Regions from separate parts of the Homo sapiens genome. Here region 2 is linked to region 1. Evidence: fine-mapped expression QTL. A gene starts in region 1. The other region holds a variant in brackets. All regions are shown on one strand. Distances are from middle to middle. Region 1 holds the start of ZMYND8 (zinc finger MYND-type containing 8). Region 2 overlaps ZMYND8 (zinc finger MYND-type containing 8).

What was found. PIP is the estimated chance that this variant, and not a neighbour inherited with it, causes the effect.
Region 2: its variant is the best candidate, but not a certain one, in a credible set for the expression of ZMYND8 in whole blood (INTERVAL, PIP 0.59).

What each region holds. Positions count from the first base shown.
Region 1 is chr20:47,351,861-47,362,206 of GRCh38, reverse strand. It overlaps ZMYND8 (zinc finger MYND-type containing 8), which reads left to right and starts at 5,508. Exons shown (of 23, transcript NM_001281775.3): 1 at 5,508-5,550. The coding sequence starts at 5,537. LOC101927377 (a long non-coding RNA gene) reads right to left here and starts at 9,646. Exons shown (of 2, transcript NR_134501.1): 1 at 9,467-9,646; 2 at 7,574-9,202. RefSeq lists enhancers at 1,128-1,422, 1,293-1,442, 2,788-3,082, 2,647-3,254, 3,255-3,862 and 8 more and cis regulatory regions at 1,030-1,685, 3,188-3,401.
Region 2 is chr20:47,215,319-47,225,664 of GRCh38, reverse strand. It overlaps ZMYND8 (zinc finger MYND-type containing 8), which reads left to right. Exons shown (of 23, transcript NM_001281775.3): 19 at 1,109-1,348; 20 at 4,191-4,351; 21 at 5,341-5,407. Among named protein-coding and RNA genes, the nearest start is that of MIR3616, 54 kb to the right of the region's middle. The variant G/TG (reference allele first, on the strand shown) is at 6,142.

The DNA of each region.
Region 1 (10,346 bases):
CAGTGAGCTGAGATGGCGCCACTGCACTCCAGCCTGGGCGACAGAGTGAGACTGTGTCTCAGAAAAAATAAAATAAAATAAATAAGTGGCTGGGCATGGTGGCTCACGCCTGTAATCCCAGCACTTTGGGAGGCCAAGGCAGGCGGATCACGAGGTCAGGAGATCGAGACCATCCTGGACAACATGGTGAAACCCCCGTCTCTACTAAAGACACAAAATATTAGCTGGGTGTGGTGGCATGTGCCTGTAATCCCAGCTCCTCAGGAGGCTGAGGCAGGAGAATTGCACGATCCTGGGATACGGAGGTTGCAGTGAGCTGAGATTGTGCCACTGCACTCTAGCCTGGGCGACAGAGTGAGACTTTGTCTCAAAAAAAAAAAAAAAAAAAGGGAGAGAAAAAAAAATAAAAGGATCACTGGCAGCCTGGGTGGTACAGTGTGTGTATGTGTGTGTGAGTGCATGTGTACAAGCGTTTGCAAGGGCGGAAGCAGAGAGCTCAGGTAAGATTCTTGCAACCATCCGGATGGGAGATGGTGTTCTACTGAGCTCTAATATATGTCAAGTGCTGTGTTCAACTCTTGAGGGCATGATGGTGAAGAATTCAGACAAGGTCCTTCCTTGCCTCGTGAAGTGCTCAGCCTGGTGCACAGTTTCTCAGCCTCTGCACTATTGACATTTGAGGCTGGCTAATTCTCCGCTGGGGGGTCTTGTCCTATGTGTTGTAGGATGTTTAGCAGCACTAGATGCCAGTAGCACTCCCCACTTCCCTGAAAGATCTTACAACCCAAAATGGAGACAACCCAAAATGTCCCTAGGCATTGCTAAATGTCCCCTTGCGGGGGCAAAACCACCGGTCCAGTGGGAGGGAGAAACAGAGCGAACGAATCTATAGTCTTCTGCCCATAAAAGTAATTGCTAGGAAGAAAAAAGAGTAGGGCCTGAGTTTTCCTGCTTTTCATTTTCCTTCTGCTCCTGCATCCCTTGCTCGGCGCCCCACCCGCGCTGTGGCCATCTGCCTGATGAGGGGCGACCATCCACCCCCTGCCCTTTCCACTAGCCCTTTTTGTTTTCCCTCCCGCCGTTTGCCTAATCCTGCCAGTCCCTCCTAGAAAGAGGTAAAAAAACAAAACAAAACCAAAAAACCCCACACCCCTCTCCTAGTAGGCATCTTCTCCAAGGGAGGGAGGCTCCTATCTGCCTCTTTGTGGCTGTAACATGACACAGTCAGCTCCGGGCTCTGAAGGTGAGCCCTTCTGTCACCGTGCCCGAAGTTGGCCTCGGTTCTAATTGGCCAGAAAGGAACAAAACAAAACAAGATATTTAAAACACTTCCCTGACTCAATCCTGTCCATTTCGCGTAACGGTCAGAGAGGCCTGCTGTAGCTGGAGGCCGATAACTGCAAGTGTGCTTATTTTTGTAGGCAGCCGAACAGGCTATCTCGGGATGCAGCTTGTGGGGCCGCTCCTGCTGCTGCTCGCCTGGCTGGAGGCCAGCGGAACGGGCGAGCCATTTCAGGGAGGCCAGGCCTCAGCTCGTAAGGTGCTGGGGGAAGGGAGCTGGGGCCAGCCTTTCCTCTCCCTCGAGACCAGTGTTGTTACTGTGACACTCTGCCTGGCTCCCCACAGCCTGATTCTGTACCCCAATCCTCTCTGTACCCTGGGAATATTAAGAGAGACACGTTTTAATCTATTTTTATTAGCTCATTGCTTATTAATATCACCAAAGAACCTGCTTGTTTAGGCCTGTGCTGGCTTTTCTAGCCAGAGGCAGAATGATTGGACTGTTTTCTTCCCTTTCCTTAAAGGGCTTAAAGCCAGGGTTTCCCAACCTTGGACATTTTGGATCAGATACTTCCTTGTTGTGGCGGGGCTGGTCTTGTGTACTTATAGGATGTTTTGCATCATCCTTGGCCTCTACCCACTGGATACCGGTAATACAACCTCCCTAACTGTGACAACCCACACGTCTCCAAGCATTGCCAAATGCCCCCTGAAGGGCAAATCCCCCCATGGTTGAACCACTGGTTTCAGGGAATATAAAAGCCTAATTTTAGAGATGGCAAAGTGTTCCCCCTTGACATCTTGCATCTTGCTGGAGGTTGGGAGGGAGAGGGTCGCTTCCTCTGGGCCTCAATCTGTAATGAGGGGCATTTGAATGAGTCTAATCTAAAAGTTTCCTTCAGCGCCATCATTCAATACTGAAAACCCACCTCAAAAGGGTGGGTCTTCAGGTTGCAGCATTGAGTTGTGATGATGCCACTGCACTCAAGCCTGGGCGACAGAGCGAGACACTGTATCAAAAAACAAAAAAGCAAAAAACTGGTCTACCTCCTAAAAGAAAACACAGATTATGCAGTTGCTGTTCGTAGGTTTCAGCCTCATTGTTTCTGCTGTGCTTGGTTCGGCTTTGCTTTTGCTTCTTTCTTTAGAGCCAGGAGAAGGTACAGAGTTTAGGGATGTGAAGTGCTAACGGGGTGGACATCTGATCTCTGGCACTTCCCAGCTGTGTGACCTTGGGCAGCTCACTTCACCTCTCTGGGCTTAGTTCCAGGTTTCTAACAATGCCACCTACTTCAGGAATCAGTCTATGTAAAGCACTAATTTAGAAGTAACTGCTGGGATACTCACTGCAGTGGGGCTTTAAGAGGAGCTGCTGAATGGATTTCTAGATTGAGACCTGCAACATTTGGTTTTATTTCCTGCTTATCAGCCACATTCCATGAAGCCCAGGACCAGCCCTTCGTAGGCCTGCCCCAGGCTTTCTTTTCAATCTGTGTTCCTCCCAGGATTCCATCTGCCACCATACTTTTGTGTCTGTCCCCAGCCGAATTGCTGTTTTCCAGATAACCTCAGACCTACCCGAATGCCAACAGCATTCCTCAAACAGAGCAGAGCTGCCAGAATAAGCCAGCAGCTTCCTGCTCTTTGCCCCAGAAAACATTTCAAGTGATCAAGTGATCAGAGAGAGGGAGGGAGGCGGGGAGGATGCTGTAGCTGCTTATGCAACAAGCTTTAATCCCAGGTTAAAATCCACCACGCACACCAGCGGCATATTTTATTTCCTCATTGGTTCGTGGACTTAGCTGCATGGGAGATCTGCCACCAACCCCACAGTCCTGTTTGTTCCCCTCAAAGCAGCACCCGCAGAAACAAACAGCATTCCATATGGGATGGCGGTGGAGGGCCGCTGCCCACACAGCTAGGAGGGTGAGCACGCACTGCTTCACTGTGGCCTCCACCTCTCGCCTCCTCCCATTTAGTCTCCCCATGCAGCTTTCTACCTCCAGGAAGAGCAGGCCCCTCCCTTTTGGTGAGGCCCAGGCCTGCTGTCCTGAGCCCTGGAGCTTTGTCAGGTTGGGTGGCCATGGAGCTGTCCCTCCCTGCAGCTTGGCCTCAGCAGCCTAAAACAGTAACAACAGCAACATCCTGTCCGTTTTTATAAAGCCTGGGTCCTGCCCTGCCGTACAGTGAGTTTCGATTCCCAGCTCGTTCCTGAGCCTGTTTGATATGAGATTCCCGGCCAGGAAGAATTTATGTACAAGCAGTGGGCATCTGTTGTCCATGTGGGGGTTGGGGGGGGGCAGGGAAAGCAAGCCATCAGCTCTTCGTTTTCTTTGTGGGAACCGTGTGGGACAAGAAAGCCCACAAGTCCTAATTTTAGGAGGAGAGGGGAGACTTTATTGCTCCGGAGTTATGCCTCCTGGCATATGGCTGCGTTAACTCTGGACGCTTTCTCCAGCCTCTAAAGAATGGTGTTTATTTAGCTTCTGTGGTTCCAGGTTGCTGTTTTAAAAAATCCTGTTAATTAAGCACCTTGTCATTTAAAATGCCGAAGAAGGAAAGAGAGCGAGAAAGCTGGGGACATTTTACGGTCCTTTTCTATCTCTGGGTACAGACCAACTGCGAAGGCAGCTTTAGGGAGGAGACCAGCAAAGACCTCCTAACGCAATTGAAGTGGGTAGAATTGTAAGCAGCTCTGAACAACCAGTTAATATTTTACTGGGGAGCGGTGCCAGAGATGGGGGGGTGGGGGGGCTGCCAAATGGAGGGCTGTGTGTGAAATCGCTGCTCCATCTGCCTTGGGGGACGAAAAGAAGCCGTTCTCTGTGCAAATAAATGGAAGCAAGAATCCTTAGGAAGCCCAGGGGATTTGTCTGCCCACCGAGGAGGGCCCAACTCCCCCAGGCACACACATACAGGGATGATTGTGGCAGGAAGGGCTGACCTACGGGGGTAGGCCTGACGCATAATGGGGGCTCTTGTTTCCGGGCTGAGCGTGCCATCTTTCTGTCTCCCTCTGGATTGAAATGGCTTCTCAGCCCGAGAGGCACTGCCTGTGCCCTGGATTCACAAGGTACACGCCTCCCTGGGAAGCAAAGGCTGAGAGACAGCGGCTCTCTCTCTCTCTTTCTGCATCTGCCGGGAGAGCTGCAGCTGGTATTTTTCCACAGGCCTTCGCTGCGATCTCAAGGCCTAGTTTTTCCCAGCCAGGCCCCGAGTCCGAGAGAGGGTTAACAGGCAGGAAGCCGAAGGCATCGCAGGCTAATACGGAAGTCAGATTTGTGTTTAACTGACAGGTTTAGCAGGTCTCGGCCGCGGGGGAGGGGCCGGGAGGGAAGGGAAGTTTGTAGATCCAGGCATGTGGCCTGCGAGGAGGGCTTTGGGTTTTTCTTAGGGTAAGGACCGAGAGGGGTCCCCCTTGGCATCGTGGCAGGGCGACAGGAACCCACGTTGATTTTGCCTGCAGGACTGGCTAAGCAGGGCGCGAGAGGCCCACGGCTCCCTGGCCTGCCTTGCAAGGAGGCATGGGGACAATGACTATGCAAACTTGACCACTCTGCTCCCCTCCTCCCCTCAGCAGCTACTCCTCGCTCCTCTGAGAAGCCAGGGCTGCTCTCTGCTGATTTTTCGGGGCTCCCCCGGGCTGCCTGCTTCCCCCAGCTTCTCAGAGGCCTGCCTCAAGCCCCTTTTTCTGGCCCCTTGGCTGTTTCCCCGGGACTCCCCACTCCCCAGCTTCCCCTTCCCCTTGGAGAGCCACCCTGCTGGACTGTTCTAGAAAAAGGCTGGCCTTCCTCCCTGGACAAGGGCCGTTTCTCTGGGGGCAGGTGAGGGTGAGCCGTTCCAGCCCACTCCAAGAAACTCCCTTCCCAGGGACCTCCGGGCCTCAGGCTTTCCTGGAGCAGGTCAGGCTGGCTGCCCTGGCTGGCCCGTGCCGGGAAATCTAGCCAGGGTGCAGGAGAAGTGCGTGTGGGGGCCCCTTTCCCAAGTTTTTCTTGCTGCAAAAGGCCTAGCTTAGCCTGTCTTTTTCTATGCACAGGATGGCTCTTGCTCACCCGAGCCTCACAAAGATAATCGCTCAGGAAGTGTTTCAGCCAATCCGGGGCGGCTTTACACTCCGATTTGCCGGGGCAGCCAATCGGGGATGAGCTTTTATTAGGCGGCCAGATCATCAGCCGAAGTGCCAAACCCTTTTTCTGTGAGAACTAGGAGCCTGTCCTCCATGTTTTATAAGTATTGACATTACACAGTGTTAACAATGCATCCACAGAGGTAAGCTCGACTTTTTAACCATCTTTTTTCCCCCTCCCTCTGAGACATCCGAATTGTGGGCGAGCAGTGTGATTTCTCTGTGGCTGGCCGTGCCACACTCACCCCCAGAGCACTTATGTTAACTTGGAACTGTTTAGAGAGAATTTTTTTGCTTTCTTGGGTCACATGGCTCAGTAGCCATTAGCCATAGCTTGATTTTGCAAACTGGCAAGGGCCTGGCACACCTTTCCTTCCACCAGGGCATGGTGTTTCTGGAAGAGTTTGAAGCTAGATCCTGGTATGCCAAAAAAGAAGCTTTTTTTTTTCCTTCTTTTTTTTTTTTTCTTTCCCTCTTCCCTCTCTCTTCCCCTCTCTCTCTCTCTGAGCAGTTCCCCCCCTCCCACCCCTGCACTATTGTCTTCTCTTTTGCCACATGCCCTGCTGGGGGAAGAAAATGGAAGGTAAGCAAACAGGCTCCTCTCCAAGGAGAGCTCATGGCAGACAGCAGAGCAGGCAAGTTTGCCTCTCCAAAGAGGTTCTGGGAAGGCTGGATAAGTTTTGACAAGAGAGGAGCGTGTTTGCAAAAGAATTGTGCCCTCAGCAGAGCAGTGCTAAGGAGAGTCTAGCTCCTGGGGCCTAGGTGGGTGGTGGTGTCTGTACACGGTCTTCTCTTATTCTACAGAGCTTCTGCACTTGAAACTACATTGTTCAGCCTGTTTTCCTGACTTAGGTTGCTACAGAGTGTTCTGCAAGCCAGCCTACAGCCAGCAAATGTTTCTGAAAGTGTTTTCTAGGCTTTGGAGGAAGTTTTTTGGAGTAGGGATGGGGACTGGGGGGTGGGGGGAGAGATCTTGGACAACATCCTGCAAAAAAAAAAAAAAAAAAAAATCTGCAAGGATTCTGAATCCCTTAGCTTTCTACTCTTGCATGATTTTCAAGGAACTAATGTTACCTTTTATCCTTGTTTTCATTTTCCTGTCCCTTTTATACATTGTATCCTCCTCTCTTCTCCTGTGTCATGGAGTGTAGAGGAAATAAAATCATGTCTGTGGCTCATGACAGCATTCCATATTCAGTTGTTGGGTTGTGTTGTTGTTGTTGTGTGTGTTTTTAATAATACCATGTAACTGTTTAAAAAAATTTCCTTTTTGATCAAGTCCCAAATCTGCCAGCCTGTTCTCTCTTCCTAACTGTGGAAAAATGAGACGGTTGCTTGAACATTTGTTGGGTAAGTAAAGCAATCCATTTCCTCTGTGACCATGTTTGAAGAGTTTTGCGAACATTTGGGGTCTGTTTGTAATAGTGGGTCTTGGCTACAGGAGTTGGGGGCTTCATTAGCAGGAACAAAATAAGGGCTTTTTAAAGAGTGTCTTGATTTTAGGTGACTGTTTGAATCCACTGTTTTTCCTGATAACCTGCAGCTAGGATTGAAGATTATACTTCCTGTTTACCCTGAGTCAGGGGAGAAATGTTCAGTTCATTGTGACTTGACTCTAGACCTTTAATGGGGTTTGTTTGGATATTCAAACTGTGAGTAGGTGATGTGCTTGTGAAATGTCATGAAACTGCTTGTTCTTAGAGGTGCAGAGCCCTAAAAACATTGGTGGTGTAGAAGCTGGTGGTGGTGGTGGTATGTGTGTGTTGGGGGGGTGGTGTCAGTGTGCTCATGTTTTAGGACTTATGTATAGTGCAAAATCTCATCTACCACCAGACTGGGTTTGATTCAGGACTCACTGACCAACACATTTTGGCCTTTTTTCAGGTCTCCTCCACACATCTGTATGCATGCTGGCCCCACATAAGATTTCTCACTTTTTACATTTCCCTTGACCACTTAAGGCTGCAGCTAGAAGTTAAGTGGGAAAAGTAGAGTCTTGTTTAGCAGTACCTTCAGAATTTCCCTAGAAGTTCAGTACATAAATTTTCAGCTTGGAGACCAATCCGACATGACCGTAAATGCAGGAAATATATTCAATTGCTGTGTTATGTCAACTTTATGGAGTCAGTAATCTTTTTTCTTTCAAATGAGTGTCCAGTAGCCCACTTTCTGACACCGAATTGGAAAAAGGCTCATTTAATCAGCAGAAACGTACCACATTCTAAGTTGAGAAAAGTCTGTGCAAGGCAGGCCAGCTTAGCTTCTTAGAGTAAAACTGCAGGCAGTTAATGATGTTATATACTTAAAACTGAACAGTGCCACTGCCCCAAACAAGTAAGTTCAGACACTCAGCTATTTTCTTTGTTCTTATCTCCTTGCTGTAAATGGAAATTACATATCGAGGTTCTTGTGGCCTCCCTAGAAGCAATATCTAATCATAAGACTCCTGGTTTGGTGCCTTCAACGTTTGCATAATACTGTGTTTGTTGGGCTGGAAGGGAACTTAAGGGCAAGGCATTTGTCCTCTAAAAGCTTGCATTAAAATGGCTCCCACAGGTTTGGAGAGCCAAGATCTGTTTTCAAATGTACAGCCCCCAGCAAGTTCCCAACCCTGGACCAAGCTAGCCACTTTTCCTCTGGTACTGTGACCCCTACCAAGCATGAGTCTGTAAAAAGTTAATTGCTTTCAAAGTAGCATTATTTTCCAGTTTCAGGAAAGGGGGAAAAAAATAAATGTCTGCATTGCAGCAGGACTAGGTAGGGACGGCAGTACTGGCTCCCAGAGCAGCCCAATGGGGTTCTTCTACTCTAGCTTTTAAACCAATAGACTTGGAGGAAAGGTTAAAGATTGACAATTGCAGTGGCCGAACTAAGAACGGGCCTTCTGGAAATTTCTACCATCTTTGTTCCTTTTAGGAAAAGCAGATCTGCCAAGCAGAAGCGTCTCCTACCTTCCATTCCTAGGTCATCTCCCTTCCCTGCTTCCCCCCAACCCCCCTTCTTTTTCTCATCAAGGTAGAATGTTCTCTCTGCCACGTTTGTAAATTGCAGAAGGAGGAACAGAATGTTGGGCTGTTTTCCTTTTTCCTTCTGCCTCCTCAGTCCCCAAAGAGGATACACAGCTGCAAGGAGCAAACACAGACACACTGAAGCTTTTGATTCCTCTCCTTTTTTTTCCTTCAAGACCCTCCAGGATGGATTCACTTTCTGCTTTGGGAAATTAAGTGGCATTCACGTGGGGGAGGGGGAGTAACTGCTTTTATTAGCTCCAGAAAATGGTCAGTGTTCAGTCTGTAACTAGGAATTAATTATATATAATCACTCAGTAAACTTTCTACAGAGTTTTTCTAATTGCTGAGCCTGATCATAGTTAGCCCGTTGGCGCCAAGTCCAGTTACTTTTATAATTAACAGCTCAAAGATTTGAGTCAGAAAGAAACAATTGGGGGCCTCTTGGATTATAAATTAGGGATGAAAACAATAGCTTTTTTTCCTTTCTTTCTTGTCATCCCTTTTATTTTCAACAAAACATTTCCCCTTTTCTTTCCCTGGGAGAACCAGTGGGGAGACTGCATCAGGTCTTAAATAGGATGAGGGGGGAGACACTTTTTAGGAAGTGGGGTGACAGTAACCTAGAAAACCCTGGAGGCAAAGGTAGGTTTTTAAAAGTCCAGCCACTTGCAACGCGTGATGTCTTTGTTTCTTTTGCCCTCTTTCCCCTTCTCTCTCCTGTGGCAGAGGCAGCAGACATTTGTCAGCCTGGGAACCCTCAATCTGGCTTTGCCTCTGGTTGACTCTGGAAAGAAAGATACATTCAAAGGGGCCTTCGCTACTGCACAGCAGAGATTTAAAAAGGGAATATGTTTCAGAACCCTTTGGTTACTCTTAAAATGCAAGATCTGAGCAAGGGTTCACCCTTGGCTTCAGGTTGCTAAGGTTATGGTCACCCTCCCCGCTACTTCCCACTCTCCTTGCAGACAAACAAACAGGCAGTGGCCATGCCAGCTCTGCAGCCAGTGTGCTGCCAGCCTGTCCCCCCCATCCCGATTACCTTACCTACCGGCCGGCGGGGGCCAGTGGCCCGTCCTTGCCCTGGCATGGCCTTGGGCACTGTGCCCTCCTTTCTCCCCTGGAGCTAAAAAGCAGTCACCTTGAAACTCCTCACTCCCAGCACCAGAGGAGTTCTGAGGCCAATGCTCAGACCTGTAACAGTAAATGACGTTATCCACTCAGGCTGTTAGTTCGGCCTCTGAAAGCGGGTTTTGCAAAACCCATTGTTAATTCTCAGGCTCTGTTGGGGGTGGTCAGAAATCTAATTTGTGAGTATCCTGTGCATTGGATAAGGGAATGTTTTCCTTGTGTTTCTCCTCTGCAGACTCGGATTGTCTTTCCTTGATGTTAACTGTCTTAGGACTGGCTGCTTCAGAGGGCTGGGTATTTGGTGGCTGTTTGCAGGCTTATAAACAGCCTTTTTATTTTACCTTTGCCGTAGACTGAGGTGCAGCCCTTTAGCTTGGCTTTTCAGATGCCTGCTGTCCTTGAAGCACTTTCATTTTACCTAGCGCCTTTTTGGTATGGATGCAAAGCTGGTTTCTAATAGACTGAGAAGAGAAGGGGGACCGGGCTTCCTCCTTGCCTTCCCCCAGGCTGCTCCCTGGGAACATTTTTGTGTTTGCACAGACACCTGTCCGTCTGCAGTTTGTGCCACGGGGCTGCACGATTCCTAACCTTCTACCCACCTAATTTGAGGGCAAGGGGGCCTCATCACAGAGCCTCATGTTGAAGGCTCAGGATCTACAAGAGAAGGCTTTTCCTTAGGAACCTGTGACTTCACAAACTCTCCCTGTCATTGCAGAGTTTTTTTTAAGCTTCTAAACGTTGGGTTGTTGGTGTCCTTTGGTTCAGCTTTTCCTAGTTCTGGTATTTAGGAAGGTGGCTTT
Region 2 (10,346 bases), 140 kb after region 1:
TTTTACTTTATAAAGTTCAGGAAGAGTATTTGAAGGAATTGAGGGACCATTCCCCTCCCATCCCCTCCTTCCCCTTCCTTCCCCTCCCTTCCCCTCCCTTCCCCTCCCTTGTCAATGGAGTTTCACTCTTGTTGTCCAGGCTGGAGTGCAATGGCATGATCTCGGTTCACTGAAACTTCTGCCTCCTGGGTTCAAGCAATTCTCCTGCCTCGGCCTCCCAAGTAGCTGGGATTACACCATCGCGCCTAGCTAATTTTTGTATTTTTAGCAGAGACAGGGTTTCACCATGTTGGCCAGGCTGGTCTCAAACTCCTGACCTCAGGTGATCCATCTGCCTCAGCCTCCCAAAGTGCTGGGATTACAGGCATGAGCCACTGCACTTGGCCTATTTTTCTTTTATTACAGCCAGCAGGTCACTCCTAAATGAATTACCAGTGGACTTAACTGTCTGAAGTAAAATTAGAGAAATCTTGGTAGACTGAGTAGGTTCATAGTTGTCCTGTTAGTATAATCATCAACCACAGTCCCATCTGGATCCAGTGCCACAGGAGACACCTACAAGAAAGCACGCCTGAGGTCTAGGCCCAGCTAGCTGTTTGCCTCGGTTTCCTCATCTGCGAAAGGGGTAGAATAGTAGTACTTACCCCGTAGGATTATTAGGATGAGGGTTATATGAGTTAATATTTATAAAGTTCTTAGAACAGTGCCTTCATGTAGTGGGTGCTGTATAGGTATTTGATTGATAGGGGGGAAAAGGCTTATGTTAATGAATAATAGGATAGAAAGTGAGTTTTGGTGGCAGTTGTTTCAAGGGTTACTTTGAGGAATTCCCAGAATGTAGTCTGGTGTGGAAAATCCTCTGGGGCTGCAGTTATGTCCATGCTGGGCACCTCATGTCCACTCTCAACAGGCAGCACCATCTGGTCACCATGATGAATGCCCTATTTACAGATGAAGACTCGGGCTAGGTTATTGCCCATGGGCACACAGCCAGGGCTTCTCCCAGCCAGGTCTTGCATCCACGTCTGCCTGAATCTGGGGGCAGGAATAACCCCACACCCCAGGCTGGGGTCAGGTGATGAGCGGTGTTCTTCCCCTCCTCCACCAGAGCTGACCATGGCGGAGATGCGGCAGAGCCTGGAGCAGGAGCGGGACCGGCTCATCGCCGAGGTGAAGAAGCAGCTGGAGTTGGAGAAGCAGCAGGCGGTGGATGAGACCAAGAAGAAGCAGTGGTGCGCCAACTGCAAGAAGGAGGCCATCTTTTACTGCTGTTGGAACACCAGCTACTGTGACTACCCCTGCCAGCAAGCCCACTGGCCTGAGCACATGAAGTCCTGCACCCAGTCAGGTAATGCCCTGTGGGGCTGCCTCCCGTCCTGGGCTGCAGTGGCTTGGCATTGGTCTCCCCTGTGGACTTCAGGGGTCTCAGGGCTAATTGTCAAGGGAGCTTGCCTGGCTTCTGGACACTTTCACTCAAAAACAATTGTGTCTTACACACAGGTGAGCAGTGTGCAGGCACATAGCTAAAACTTGAGCCATGGGCATTTTGAACCTTTGATCTTTGCAGAACCCTTGATCTCTTCTCAGGCCTAAAGTGTCAGTAGTACTGAAGTTGAGACACTGTGTTTTTTTTGGCAGTAATGGACTTGTGGCTTTAGATAATATGGATTCCCAATTTCTTTGTTAAGTAAAAAGTGTTAGTTTGGTACTAACCTATCTTTGACACTGCTGTAATATTTGTAATCACCCTTTCCAACATAGAACAAGCAGTCCCCAGGCCTAGAGCTTCCAGCAGGAAGCACTATCTAGTTAGAATTTATCCTTTTTTTTTTTTTTTTGAGACAGAGTTTCGCTCTTGTTGCCCAGGCTGGAGTGCAGTGGCGTGATCTCGGCTTAGTGCAACCTCTGCCTTCCGGGTTCAAGCGATTCTCCTGCCTCAGCCTCCCGAGTAGCTGGGATTACAGAAATATGCCACTATGCCCGGCTAATTTTTAGTATTTTTAGTAGAGATGGGGTTTCTCCATGTTGGTCAGGCTGGTCTTTAACTCCTGACCTCAGGTGATCCACCTACCTTGGCCTCCCAAAGTGCTGGGATTACAGGCGTGAGCCACAGCGCCTGGCATCAATAATATTTTATGAATTATTATTATTATTATTTTGAGACAGAGTTTTGCTCTTGTCCCCCAGGCTGGAGTGCAGTGACACGATCTCGGCTCACTGCAACCCTGCCTCCTGGCTTCCACTGATTCTCCTGCCTCAGCCTCCCAAGTGGCTGGTATTACAGGCACACATCACCATGCGCAGCTAATTTTTGTATTATTAGTAGAGACAGGGTTTCACCATGTTGGCCAGGCTGGTCTTGAACTCCTGACCTCAAGTGATCTGCCGGCCTCAGCCTCCCAAAGTACTGGGATTACAGGTGTGAGCCACCACGCCCAGCCTATAAGTTATTTTTTACCATTAGCTTTTATTTGTGGCAAATGATACTAGCTTTGTATGGTTGGAATTAAACACTTCCATTTTAAAGAATTTCAAGTGTCCCATAAATAATACAATAAAGTAGTATGTCTGCGGATTGGCAAAATTTGCAAAGGTGGTATGTAAATGACTCAAGTGTGAGAAGCTTGACCAGGGGTTGGTAAACTTTTTCTGTGAAGGGCGAGAGTGAATATTTTAGGCTTTGTACACCATGTGGTTTCTGTTGCTACTACTTAACTCTGCTGTTGCAGTGCAGAAGCAGTCTTAGATGATATGTAAATGGATGGACATAGATGATATATAAATGGATGGATGTGGCTGTCTGCCAATAAAACAGGCAGCACTAGCTTGCCAGCTCTTGCTCTAGACAAATCTGTTATTTTATTATTTTTTAAAAGGCAATATTGGAGAATACCTTGCCCTGTTCTTTAGTCTTTAGGGAGATGTCTTCTTTGTAGAGACTTTTGGTCTCTTACTGGAGTAAAGTCTCTTTGTGTTTTCCCTCCGTTCTGGAATGTGTCTGATGAGCCTTTTGCTGTTTTGCCAAGATGGCCAAAATGTCCTTCGGCTTTCCTTTTTTTGTGACATAATTACATCTGTTCTTCCTAAATTCCTCCCAGACGCGTTTTTCTTTTCCTTTTTTTTTTCGTTGAGACGGAGTCTCGCTCTTTCTCCCAGGCTGGAGTGCAACGGCGCGATCTCAGCTCACTGCAAGCTCCGCCTCCCGGGCTCATGCCATTCTCCTTCCTCAGCCTCCCTAGTAGCTGGGACTACAGGTGCCCGCCACCACGCCTGGCTAATTTTTTGTGTTTTTTAGTAGAGACAGGGTTTTACTGTGTTAGCCAGTATGGTCTTGATCTCCTGACCTCGTGATCTGCCCGCCTCAGCCTCCCAAAGTGCTGGGATTACAGGCATGAGCCGCCGCACCCGGCCCCAAACGCCCTGTTTTTCTATGTGTCCAAGTTTCTGCCATCTCCAGATTCTCTGGGCCTCTGATAGCATGTCGCCTTTCACGTGGTTTTCCTGTCCCACCTTAGAAGGAAGAAAGTCTCTGGGGCTAAAAATATAGGTCTCCACCTAGAAATGACTAAATAGAGTAACTAAATCAGCAGTTACAGGTTGGCTCTTGTTGATGGGCTTTATTTGTTCCAGGAATATACTTTCATCTCCAGAATGATTTAATAAAACTTGAATTGCTAACCATTAAAAATCAACATGTTGGCTAGGCACGGTGGCTCAAGCCTGTAATCCTAGCACTTTGGGAGGCCGAGGTGGGTGGATCACCTAAGGTCAGGAGTTCAATACCAGCTTGACCAACATGGTGAAACCCTGTCTCTACTAAAAATACAAAAAATTAGTCGGACATGGTGGTGTGCACCTGAGTCCCAGCTACTTGGTGGGCTGAGACAAGAGAATCACTTGAACCCAGGAGACAGAGGTTGCAGTGAGCTGAGATCGTGCCATTGCACTCCAGCCTGGCTGACAGAGCGAGACTCCATCTCAGCATGTTTATGTTAAAATTTGGAATTCTAAAGTTTGGAATTCCAGCTTCTGGAAAACTCTGGCAATCTGGCCCCCTTGAGCCTCCACTTTTATGCCCTGGGTAGGGCTGAGCCTTGGGTGCCACTGGGTGCAGGGCGGGGCTCCATGCATGTTTCAAAATCATCGTACTCTGTGTATATGTGGCGTCTCTCTCTCTCCTTTGTCCCCAGCTACTGCTCCTCAGCAGGAAGCGGATGCTGAGGTGAACACAGAAACACTAAATAAGTCCTCCCAGGGGAGCTCCTCGAGCACACAATCAGCACCTTCAGAAACGGCCAGCGCCTCCAAAGAGAAGGAGACGTCAGCTGAGAAAAGCAAGGAGAGTGGCTCGGTGAGGATCCCCCCATGCCTTTGGCTAGTGACATCTACCCTTTGTGCCAAGTGGACTTAGGACCCCCTGTCTGCCGCCCTGAAAGTTCCGTGTTGTGGGAGGCTTGTCCTAACAGTGTGCCGGCATTTCCAGTGGATGTGTGGGAACATGGAGCCTGGGCCGGCGTGTGTGGGACCTGGCAGCTGCTCCCCAGTACTCTCTGCTGGGGACCCTCAAAGTGTAGAATAGTGTTGCCCAGGAGAACTTTCTGCGATGATGGAAATGTTCTGTACTTCCCGTCCAGAATGGTAGCTGCTAGCTACATGCAGCTTTTGAGCACTTGAAATGCAGCTAGTGTGACCGAGGACCTGATTTTACAGTTTTATTTAATTTTAATTAATTGAGATTTCAGTAGCCACATGTGGCTAGTGGCTGCCCTATTGGGCCACGAAGGTTTCACCTCCTTGTTTGTTTGCCAGGGTGTGATGTATGTGACATTGATGGTATGCAAAGACTATTTTCATGAGTATATAGTTTTTTACATTTTTAGTCACTGTATATCTATTTCATTGCATATTAGGAAAAAGATAAATCGTTAGACTGTCAGTTAAAACATGTTGGTTTAACTGATAGTATTACCTAGTCAGAGGCTAGCATGAATTAAAAGCGGACTGACAGAATTTTGAAGTAATGTACTTTCTCCTTGGATATGGCAAAAATCTGGAGGGGGTTCTGTTAGTGAGTGGAGTTTAGGAAACAGTGAATGTTCTAGGGTACAGTGAGGGGCCACTCTGGTGCTGCGTTCCAGTCTGTTCAGTGTGGGAGATGGTACCTGGGGTTTGGCCACCTGGCCGCCCTGTGCCCATCACTCCCACCTGACCGTGCCAGGCAGAGGACACTGAGATGCTTTGGGGGCAGCGATGAGCACCCCCATGACTCCCTGGATTTCCCTGTGGGGGCGACAGTAGCCTCAGTGCCTTGAGTCCATCTTTTTCTTTTTGTATTTCTAGACCCTTGACCTTTCTGGCTCCAGAGAGACGCCCTCCTCCATTCTCTTAGGCTCCAACCAAGGCTCTGGTATGTTGCCCCCTGGTGGGCGAACGGTGCTTTCACATTTCAGATGGGCAGATGGGGAGCCATTTTGTCAGGGAGAATTTGAAGGGTTTATTCCAATGGTTTCCAAACGATTATGGATCCTTAGGGGTGCCTGGGGTGGGTCAGTGGGGGTGAGGGGGTAGCTGAGCATGTTAACTTTCAGGTACCTCTTCAAGCTGATCGGTATTACCTATTGTATTTACTGGGGATCCACATAAAACTCCATTTGGACAGAGGGTTCTGTTGCTGACCTGGGGTAGGGTAGAAGAAGTGCATTTGGATTGGGAAGTTTTTTTTTTCTCTCTCTCTCAGGGAAATGAGAACGGTAAATGACACTGTGTAAGATTTTATTCTGAGGTTCTGACACCTGCATATGGTGGATGAAGGCGCTCAAGCCTTTGAGAATTGAAGGCAGTGCTTAAGTGGATGATCTTTCTGTTAAATCCTTTCCTTTTGGAGAATAACCTGGCAGGCAGGTTTGGGGAAATTTCTGAGACTTGACATCTAGGTTTTTTCTTCTGTGGGGTTTGAGCTGTCTTCCTTCCTTAGCCCAAAGAATCTTTTTCCTGCACTTTCTTAAAGCAGTTTTGGGTCATTCCAGAAGGGTTCAGAGAAGGTGTCTTCCTGGTGGAAGACAGTTTTACTTCATTCAAGGTTTTTGCCTGGCACCACAGCTCCAGGACCTTTCTGCCTGATGATGATTTTTTTTTTTTTTT[G/TG]AGACAGTCTTGCCCTGTCGCCCAGGCTGGAGTGCAGTAGTGTGATCTCAGCTCACTGCAACCTCCGCCTCCCAGGCTCAAGTGATTCTCCTGCCTCAGCCTCCCAAGTAGCTGGGACTACAGGGACGCACCACCATGCCTGGCTAATTTTTTAAAAAAATTTTGGTAGGCCGGGCGCAGTGGCTCATGCCTGTAATCCCAGCACTTTGGGAGGCTGAGGTGGGCGGATCACAAGGTCAGGAGTTTGAGACCAGCCTGACCAACATGGTGAAACCCTGTCTCTACTAAAAGTACAAAAATTAGCTGGGCGTGGTGACATGCGCCTGTAATCCCAGCTACTTGGGAGGCTGAGGCAGGAGAATCGCTTGAACCCAGGAGGTGGAGGTTGCAGTGAGTCGAGATCGTGCCACTGCGCTCCAGCCTGGAAGACAGAGCGAGACTCTCTCTCAAAAAAAAAAAAAAAAAAAATTGTAGAAACGGGGTTTTGCCATGTTGGCCAGGTTGGTCTTGATCTCTTGACCTCAAGTGATCCTCCCGCCTCTGCCTCCGGAAGTGCTGGGATTACAGGCGTGAGCCACTGACGATTCTCTTGAGCTGAAAAGCAAACATTTCATTTCACTTCTGCATATTGAGTGCATGGAGGAAGAAGTGATGTCCATTGTTAGGGGCTGGGAACGGTTTCCCTAAGGGGCTAGGCCTTGAAAGTTGGATGGGATTTGGGGGCACAGTCAGAGGGAGTAATATGAGCTTGCTTTAGGAGGGAGGATATGAACTTGGCATTAAATATGACTGAACCACCTATTGAAAAAGCAACTCCCTCTTCACTTCCCCTTGTAACAGGCTCAGTTTAGTGCTAAGATGTCTTTAGCATCTCTCATATTTCCTGATTCTCTTTTTAACAAAGACTGAGCAGACTCTAGATTTTAGCCGCATGCTCCCCACCCTAGAACTTTTAATTTAAGGTTTTCATTACATTCATTTTTGGAGTTGCCCTTGATTTAACAGCAGATTTTATTGGTTTTGTGTTTTTTGTTGGTTAACAATAAAAGTTTAGTTATTTACCTAAGTTACATAAGTTTAAAATAAAAACATGAACTAAGCAATATGTAAGAGGACTATGGATGTGTCGAAATGGCACAAGTGGTGTGAGGAAGGTCCAAGTTAGGGAAACACCGTTTCAGACAGAGGGGTGCTGTTAGGGTTTTGGAGCCTCAAAGTGGCTTGATTGAAATGGCATCTGAGAAGATGAATGATGCCGTGGTAGGATGAATCTGGCAGGAGTCTGTTGGCATCAGGAGGGTGGCATACAGGAAGGTAGTTGGGAGAGGCATCGTATTCCATTCTGAGCTGGAGGAGTATTACCTAGACCAGGGTCAAGAAACTTTTTCCATAGAGGGCCATTTAGTAAGTATTTTAGGTTTTGCAGGCCGCATGGTTCCTGTCATAGCTGCTCACCCTGCCGTTGTAGTGTGAAAGTAGACATAGATAATATGTAAACAAACGTGTGCCTTGTGCCAATGAAACTTGAATTGCAAAAACAGGCATTGAGCTGGCCATAGTTTGCTGACTCCTGACCTGAGGCACACTGGCCCAGGGAGTGGAAGGGAGAGGAGGCAAGAAGCCCCAGTAAATGGTGGGGGGAAGAGGGGGGCGAGCAGGGGGAGGAAGGGGCAGTTTTTCTGAATAAGGCAGATAAATGCCTATCTTCGTGGAGTTTCAAAGGAAGTCAGAAGAGCAGCTATTGGTGATACTGAAGAGCATGAACACCTTATCATGTTTTTCCCCAATGTCTGTAAGAGCATAGTTAGTATTTCCATTATACAGATGAGCAAGTTGAGGTCCAGAGACATTAACTCAGATGCCCAGGTAACTCAATGAGTAATTATGAGAGCCAAGACTTCAGTTCAGATCTCTCCAGACTCATGCTTTGAAAGGTGGGTGGGTGGGATTTGGGGGCACAGTCAGAGGGAGTAACGTGAGCTCACTTTAGGAAGGATACGAACTTGGCATTAAATATGACGGAAGCACCTACTGAGAAAGCAACTCCCTCTTCACTTCCCCTTCGAACAGGCTTAGTTTGATACTGAGATGTCTTTAGCATCTCTCATATTTCTTGATTCTCTTTTTAACAAGGACTGAGCTTTGCAACCATATGCAACCAATTGAGCTTTGCAATCCAGACTCATGCTTGCAACCATATGTCAGGTATACTTAGGTGGACACCTATAAAATTGTTGTAACTCAAAAATGGCTGAGTAATGGCACTTGTGCGTGGCTCTGCTAATAAGGCACTGATCTCTAGGAAACGTCAGCGTGCAGATGTGGCCTTTTTTTCCTCACCCAATTCTACTAACTGTCTTGTTTCTATACCTCCCTCCTTCCTACCTCCTTACCCAGCTTAATTTCCATGGAGTACTGTTGCTAATACAACCCAGTCTCCCAGGCCCTTCCTGTTTTCCTAGCATGTCCATTTGGCAAAACCTCACCTTGGATGAACCCCAGCTTTCCGCTTTTGATTTACCTGCACCTGAGCCTCAGTGCTTAACTGGAGAATGTTACACAAGAACACAAACTCCTCTCATCACACACGCAAATCTGGGTCACTAACCTCAGAAGCAGATATTCTCTTCTGCCGGATCGTCTTCCCAATATGTTTTTCTTTTATTAATACTTTTTGTCCCCAGAGACCTGTGTTCTTTTTTTATTCTACTTTTTTGAGACAGAGTCTTTGCTCTGTCGCCCAGGCTGGAGTGCAGTGGCATGATCTCGGCTCACTGCAACCTCTGCCTCCTGGGTTCAAGTGATTCTCCTGCCTCAGCCTCCCGAGTAGCTGGGATTATAGGTGTGCACCACCACACCCAGCTAATTTTGTATTTTTAGTAGAGATGGGGTTTCACCATGTTGGCCAGGCTGGTCTTGAACCCCTGACCTCAGGTGATTTCACGTGCCTTGGCCTCCCAAAGTGCTGGGATTACAAGCTTGAGCCACTACGCCCAGCCCGGCCCTTTTTTTTTTTTTTTTTTTTTTTGAGACAGAGTCTTCGCTCTGTTGTCCAGACTGGAGTGCAGTTGCGTGATCTTGGCTCACTACAACCTTTGCCTCCTCAATTCAGGTGATTCTCCTGCCTCAGCCTCCTGAGTAGCTGGGATTACAGGTGTGCATCACCATGCCCAACTAATTTTTTGTATTTTTAATAGAGACAAGGTTTCACTGTGTTGGCCAGGCTGGTCTTGAACTCCTGACCTCAAGTGATTCACCCACCTTGGCTTCCCAAAGTGCTGGATTACAGGCATGAGCCACCGTGCCTGGCCAGAGGCCTGTGTTGTGACCCAAGTTTTTTGTTTTTATCAGGATTCCATCGTCCATGATGGCTATTTCTCAAGTTCTCTGCTCTGTTTTGGACCTCCCTGCATCTCTCCCTGCGTCACCATCCCTGGGCGCTCAGGGCTGCTCCTCTGCCCTCTGCAGGGCCTCCGTGGTGTGCTCTGTCCTTCCCTCCTGCCGTTCAAAGGCATCTGCATCCTTTGTTGTAGCCAGATTTCTCACTCTGTATTGCTTTTCTTCCTAGGCACTTAAATATCCTCATCTATCTCCAAGTGCCTTCCTTGACACCTTGCATCTCCAATAGAACGTTCTGTGACAATGGCCATGTTCTTATATTTGCACTGTCCACTATGGTAGCCACTAGCCACGTGTCGCTGCTGAAGCCTTGAACTGTGGCTAGTGCGACTGAGGAATGGAATTTAACATTGTATCTTATTGTAGTGGTTACCATATTGAATGGCATAGCTTAAGACCTGTCCTGTCTCCTTCCTCAACCCAGTTAGTTAGATGTCTCTTCAAGGGTTGTTATTCTAGAGCTAGGGCCCACCTGTAGTCCCAGCTACTTGGAGAGGCTGAGTCAGGGGGGTTACTTGAGCCTAGGAGTTTTGAGACTGCAGTGAGTGCCTGTGAATAGCCACTGCACTCCAGCTGGGCAACAGAGTGAGACCTCATATTTAAAAAAAAAAAAAAAAGTTGTTTCATTTGTCTCCATTTCCCTTTCTTTACACACTCCGCTGCTGCTATGATACAGTTTCTATTCTGATACTCCACCATCCCCCTAAGCCATTAACAGTCATGGACATTTATTATTATTATTATTAGTATTTGAGATGGAGTCTTGCACTGTTGCCCAGGCTGGAGTGCAGTGGTGCAATCTTGGC